2 linked regions of the Homo sapiens genome follow. Changing the gene in region 1 together with any one later gene gives a genetic interaction. Each region holds a gene or a part of one and is shown in the gene's direction. Other genes may lie near its edges.

Evidence for each region. Genes that interact genetically often act in the same process or in processes that back each other up.
Region 2: changes in WDR70 (region 1) and PPIE together harm fitness more than expected from each alone (negative genetic interaction), as found in Homo sapiens cells (one large-scale study listed by BioGRID).

The regions. Positions count from the first base shown.
Region 1 is NC_000005.10:37,718,318-37,721,817, forward strand, and holds part of WDR70 (WD repeat-containing protein 70), read left to right. Parts: intron 1-2,797; coding exon 2,798-2,898; intron 2,899-3,500.
Region 2 is NC_000001.11:39,748,882-39,752,381, forward strand, and holds part of PPIE (peptidyl-prolyl cis-trans isomerase E), read left to right. Parts: intron 1-21; coding exon 22-207; intron 208-3,500. UniProt on the Homo sapiens protein: Involved in pre-mRNA splicing as component of the spliceosome. Combines RNA-binding and PPIase activities.

The DNA.
Region 1 (3,500 bases):
CTGCTGCCCCTGGAAACTGCCTGTTTGGCTGGATGTCTTGGAATTTATCAGGCCTACATTGTGGATCTTTTCCAATTCTGCACCCTGCTCACTTGAAAACATATTTGAGAACTAGTAATCTTAGACTGCTGAGCCAGACCTCTAGAGAACCAAGAAAGAGAAATAACTCTAATACTGTGCCCTTAATATTGTCCTGGGCCATTTATGGGTGGCTGAGATTTCTGAAAGCCTTTGACAGCCGCTTTCATTATTCTGTGATTCATGTACATTCTCTCTCTCTAGGACCACATTAGGAGGAATCTAACCCTGCTACATTTGTAGGATACCTGAGTATAATAATGATATGAGGAAATCAAATTATTTCTCATGGAGTAATGATTTTAATTTGAAAATTGTCTCCAGCTCTACCTAGCAAAGCAATCCATTTAGGCATGGGTGAACTGTAGCTTTTAATTCATTCCTTTGGTGAACATTTTTTGAGCACCAGACACTAATCTAGGCACTTGGGATATGTTGCCAAACAAAACTGACTGAGATCTTTGCCCATGAAATATGTGTTCTAGTGGGGAAGGCAGACAATCAGCATCATTAATAAATAAGTTATATATTATATTAAAAGATGATACATGCTATAAAAAAAGAAAAGCAGACTAAGGGGAGTTCTGGGGCACAGTTTTAAATTGGGTGGTTTAGATAGCAATGACATTTAAGCAAAGACTAAAAGAGATGAGTCTTGGCTCAGATGGATTTCTTCTACATAGGGTTTCATAAACATGACTTCATGAAGTTATGTTTGTGACTCTCCTTATGTTTCCATATACCTGGCTGTGGCCATCTGGGAATTTCCAGTGGTCTATCTCAAATTAGTCTCAGTGGTGGAGCACCTAGAAGCTGCACTTTGTAGACCATGAGCTATTGATATACTTAATTACATCTTCCCAACCAGGAGCAATTTTATTAGGAGAAAATGTGACTTTTATATGTATGCATTATAAACTAGGTTTTACAAGCATAGGTACAAAGCAACAACAACCCCCCCCCCAAAAAATACCCAAACTATCAAATTAAATATATCTTATTTTTTCAAGTTTTTCTGTTAATATTTACTCACTATTATATTTGTTTTATCATCTTTTAGAACTTGCTAGCCTGGGTAGCAGGCACCATAGATTTGAGAAAAATTGTGGAAAGCAAGCCTAAAGTTGTGAAAACCTGCCCCTTTAACTTAATTTTCCCCCCAGCTGATGGGGAAAACACAGCCATTCTGATTTGATTTTCTCTGTACAATATCCCATTCCTCTTCAGTGGTACATAGGTTAAGAACCACTCTTCTAGAGTAAGTCTGTTAAATCAGATATGAATTAAATAAAAGTCTTGTAGACTCTTTTCAGCTTTCTCCTTAGTTCCTCTGGAATCTCAGGTAAGGGTTTGCAGCCATTTACCTATTTTTTTTTGGCCTATTTTTTTGCCATTCACATGGGAGTCAGAATTTTTATTTCTTTGTTTTTTTCTTTCTTTCTTTCTTTCTTTTTTTTTTTTTTAAGAGACAGAGTCTCACTCTGTCACCCAGGCTGGAATGCAGTGGCACAATCATAGCTCACTGAAGCCTCAAACTCCTAGGCTCAAGCAATCTTCCTGCCTCAGCCTCCTGAGTAGCTCGGACTACAGGCGCGTGCCACCATGCCCAGCTGGGAATCAATGTTCTATCAAAAAGGATCTGAGAGATTTCAAGATATTCTGTCTTAACAAAAGAGTGGAATGAGTAGAGACAAGGAACCAAAGAAATTCAGCCCAAAGTAGATTTAGGAGACGTAGTCATGATTTTCATTTTACCACTAGAACTATAAAATGCTAATATCTAATCATACCCTTTTCCCCTTTAGTCCCTATATATAGTTTGACAAGTGATAGATTATTAATAAACATTGAATTAATGCTTCCACTCATATCTTGTTCTATCAGAGTGAGTTCTATAGAACCTAGTACATGGGGTTTCTGTTTACTAACATTAGCTTCATCTTTTTTCCCTTTAATTCTGTCCACGCTATCCCTCCCACCTCTGCCCTCTTACCACAGACAAAAATTAAAAACAGGTTATAGTTCTCACTGAGAACTTGTGGTTCTTTTCAGCCCCAGAGCACCACTTATTTTCCTTACCAGTAATGAATTCATAGGATCATAACTTCCAGTGAACCTTCTCTTAAACAGCTTTTCATTTAGGTTAATGTCAAGTCTTTGTATTCTGTATCTCTGTTTTACTTCTGCTGTTGTCCTGCTGTTTTATCTCATAGATAGGGAGACATTATTAAATGCCTACAAATGTGCATTGTTTCTGAAAAAGCTTTATGAGATTTGGATCTTTGTGAACTAAAAACAATAACCACCTGGTCTCAATCTGCTGTCCAGAGGGACATATTGTATGTGTGTAAGAGCATGAAATTCGCTTCAGTGGTAAGTGTAACTGAGTTATGTGGATTTAGCATTCCATGATGCCAGCCTCACGTGGTAATGGACCTGGGAAACCTAATTTTGTGGTTTCAGGGCTGTCCAGAAAGGGAGATAATGTCAGGAAGAGAACATCTTTTTTATTTTTATGGAGTATCACCCAGATAATAAGTGATGGAATGGAATTTTACTTCAGGAACACAACTTTATGGTTTAAAAGAAAATGTCTGAAAGTTAGAGGTAAACCATCAGGATGATATTTGATATAGTAGACTAGCCATCAAAGTACCAGCAGGATTGTTTCCATTTTTATCTGGCCTCTTTAGTCAACCACTGCGCTTTTCCTTTGCAGAGTGTTGTTCGCTGCCTGTGGCATCCAAAGCTGAACCAGATCATGGTTGGAACTGGAAATGGATTGGCTAAAGTCTATTACGACCCCAACAAGAGTCAGAGGTATTTCATAAGTATTGCCTGTTTTAGATGGATGACAACAACTGGGGGGAGGGATTTCCCTCCCACCCCCGCTTTTATTTATTTCCCACTTTGATGGAGATCCACCCATTTAGAAAATGCAGCTGGAACAAAGTAAAGCCTCAAACTCCTGGTATTGTGCTTTAAAAAGGATTTGAATATTGCCCTTGATCCACACTGAATTCAAAGCGAAAGTTTCCTGGGAATTTGCAGTTGTTTAGCTGAAATGTTGAGTGCAAGGGGGAAAAACGTTCTGCCCACTTTGCATACCACCCTGGACAGAGGCATTAGCAGTGATACATGTAAGAGATTTAACAAAGCAGGGAACTAACCACTTACAGGAAATGGAATCAGCTTGTCCATTTTGCTTCTTTCTTTTTTGGCTTCTAGCAGTTTGGATGTTTGGCAAGATTATTCTCTGTCCGCAGAAAGGGACAGCACAGATACGTTTCCCCTCCACCCCCATGCCCACCCAAGTTTCAAACTTAAGCATACCACTGTATTTCAAAAGTCTGAAAACGTAACTAGAGGTTCAGTCATTTCCTCAGTTATTTCCGTTTTGCTTAGGCACAAAGATGGATATG
Region 2 (3,500 bases), on another chromosome or scaffold:
TTTTTCCTTTCTCAATTCCAGAGAATTTCCGCTGCCTGTGCACTCATGAAAAGGGCTTTGGCTTTAAGGGAAGCAGCTTCCACCGCATCATCCCCCAGTTCATGTGCCAGGGCGGTGATTTCACAAACCACAATGGCACTGGGGGCAAGTCCATCTATGGGAAGAAGTTCGATGATGAAAACTTTATCCTCAAGCATACGGGACCAGGTAGGAGCCAGTTGGCATGTGGTGACGAGGGAGGCTGGGCAAGGGTGGGATGGCCAGGCAGGATGGAAGGACAGGTTGTAGTTCTGGCTGGCGGACACTAAGAGTCTGGAGGAGACCCAGCCACCAGACATAGGAGAACCATGCAGCCTTGCTAGGGTGGAGTTGGCTTGTTGACATTCAGGTACTGTTCATCCCCCAACCGTGTCCACAATTCCTATTAGCCCCGCTTGGATTCTGTGGTCTGCTGTTGCAGGCTCTTATGCTCTCAACCCCACTGCTCTCCCTGCCCTCACCATCAGATTTACTCAGTAAAATCTCGGTGGTTAGTCCCCCAGCAACTAGAGAAAAAACACAGAATTGTACTGAACAATCCCACTTGAAATTTATAACTATAGTTCTTAAGGGGACCCTTGCCAACCTGACCAGATTTCCCTACTTGATGCTCAGTCCCAACCGGAGATGATGTGTCCATGCCCGTCTTCACTTCTGAAGCCCTCATATCATCACCTTCCCACCTCATCTAATGCTTCACCTCCTGCATCTCTCCACTCGTGCATGCTCTTTCTTCCAATTACAGGGGATGAGCTGTCTCTCCTAGGCCAGCCTCTCCACCTGTGGACTGGATCCTGTCCCTCTCCTCTACTTAGGAACATGGCTTCTAAAGTTGTCCCCTTCTTGTAATCCATTTCCCCTGCTCTGCTAGATCAGTCCATTAGCATGAAAGCATGCAGTTATCAACCTTTAAAAAAAATCTTCATCCGGTTGCCGGGTGCAGTGGCTTAGTCCTGTAATCCCAGCATTTTGGGAGGCAGAGGCAGGCGGATCACCTGAGGTCAGGAGTTGGAGGCCAGCCTAACTAACATGGAGAAACCCCATCTCTACTAAAAATATAAAATTAGCCGGGCGTGGTGGCGCGTGCCTGTAATCCTAGCTGCTCGGAAGGCTGAGGCAGGAGAATCACTTGAACCTGGGAGGCGGAGGTTGTGATGAGCCAAGATCGCACCATTGCACTCCAGCCTGGGCAACAAGAGCGAAACTCCGTCTCGGAAAAAAAAAAACAAACTTCATCCTTGTACTCTTGTTCCCTCTCCAGCTATCACCCATGCCCCTGGTCCCCCATCTTTTTTCAAGAAGTAAAAGCATAACTTCTTGAAAACATGGTACAGACTTGCTGCCTTCGCGTTTTCTCTAATCCCTTCTAGGCAGACTTCTAGTCCCATCTCGCCATTGAAACCACTCTTGCCAAAAATACGAGTAGCCAGTTCTTGGCGATCATCTTATCCCACCTCCCAGATGTTATCCCACCTCCCAGGAGCATTTCATACTACAGGTTGAGTGTCCCTTTCCTGAAATGCTTGGGACCAGAAGTATTTTGTATTTTGGAATATTTGCATTATACTTACCAGTTGAGCATCCCAAATCTGAATATCTCAAATCTGAAATGCTCGAGTGAGCAGTTCCTTTGAGTATCATATCAGTGCTCGTGAAGTTTCAGATTTTGGGGCATTTTGGATTTTGGATTTTCACATTTGGGATGCTCAGCCTGTACTAACTCTGTTCTCCTTGACTCCTTCTTCACTTGGCTGGCAGGACTCCTGCCTCTTCTTGTCTCCTTTTACCTAGATGGCTGCTTTTTCTGTCTTTGCTGTCTCCTTCTTTTCCTGACCCTTAAACACTGAAGTGGCTCAGAGCCCATTCTTTGGTTCTCCAGAAGCCTGTTACCCTGTGCTCCGTTTTTCTAACTGGTGGTTTGTAGGGCCCCTCTTTACTATACTGAACTGACATGTGTAGGTGATATAGCCCACTGACCCACATCGTTATTTTAAAAATCAGTATTCATCTGTAACTATAATAGGGAAGAACATCAGAGGAAATAAACGAATTTGTATAATACTCGAATATGTTTCCAGATGTACATGCTTAAGCACAGCTGTGTCAGAACACAAAGTGAATTATTCAGGCGTCTGCCCCTGTACTCAAACGCAGCAGTTAGAAATGCAGACGGGAGTGTCAACTGGATACCACTAGGAGTGATGCTATTGGTGATACGGCTTTGTGAAATGGTAGATAAAGTTGATTAGAGTCCAAAGTAAAGAATAATCTGTTTATTTACATAGTAGTTACATTCCTAGAAGATTCCATGGAAAATCAAAAGCACTCCAAAACTTTGGGCTTATATGTATAATGGAATTATGTTTTAGGTGCAGATAACTGTAAACACATTTTTTACCTATACCAATATCTGGCAGGATATTTGTTGTTTTGTTGTTGTTTGGTTTTTGTTTTTTTGAGACAGGGTCTCTTTCTGTTGCTCAGGCTGGAGTGCAGTGGTGCAAGACGGCTCACTGCAGCCTCAACCTCTCCAGCTCAAGCAGTCCTGCCTCAGCCTCCCAAATAGCTGGGATTATAGGTGCACGCCATCCATAATGCCAGGCTAATTTTTAAGTTTTTTGTAGAGACAGGGTTTCATTATATTGCTCAGGCTAGTCTGGAACTCTTAGCTTCAAGTGATCCTCCCACTTCAGCCTCCCAGAGTGCTGGGATTACAAGCATTAGCCACTGCGCCCAGCCTCTAGCAGGATGTTTGTAAGGGCCAAGAGGATATGAGACAATTCATTGTGCCAGACATTGCAGAACATCTAGCATTCCAGGCCCCCACCTGCTAAATGCCAGTAGCACCCCCACAATATTTCAGACAGTCAAAAACACTTTCAGGCCAGGCACGGCGGCTCATGCCTGTAATCCCAACACTTTGGGAGTCTGAAGTGGCAGCCCAAAGCCAGAGGATCACGTGAGTTCAGGAGTTCGAGACCAGCCTGGGCAACATAGTGAGACCCTATATCTACTGAAAAAAGAATAAAAAAATTATCCAGGTGTGGTGGTGCACGCCTGTAGTCTCAGCCGCTTGGGAGTTGAGGTGAGAGGATTGCTTGTGCCCCAGAGATTGAGGCTACAGTGAGCTGTGATGCACTCCTGTACTCAGCCTGGGTGACAGAGTGATCCCCATCTCAAAAAAAGTAAATTCAGATTTCCAAAGGTTTCCTAGGGACAGGACACCAACCCCACTGAGAAGCAGTGCCCTAAGCAGTCACACCCGGTCCCAGGGCTTTCAGCGGTATCTCTGAGTTAAGTTTGTGCAGACTGGCATCTGCATGCTGATGGCTCCCTGAGCTCCAGACTCCTGTCCAACTGCCTGCCTGTTGTCTTCACTGGATATCCCACGAGCATCTCACACTTTACATGTCTAAAACAGCTCTTGGCCTTCTCCCCTAAACTCTTCCTCCTCCTCTTCC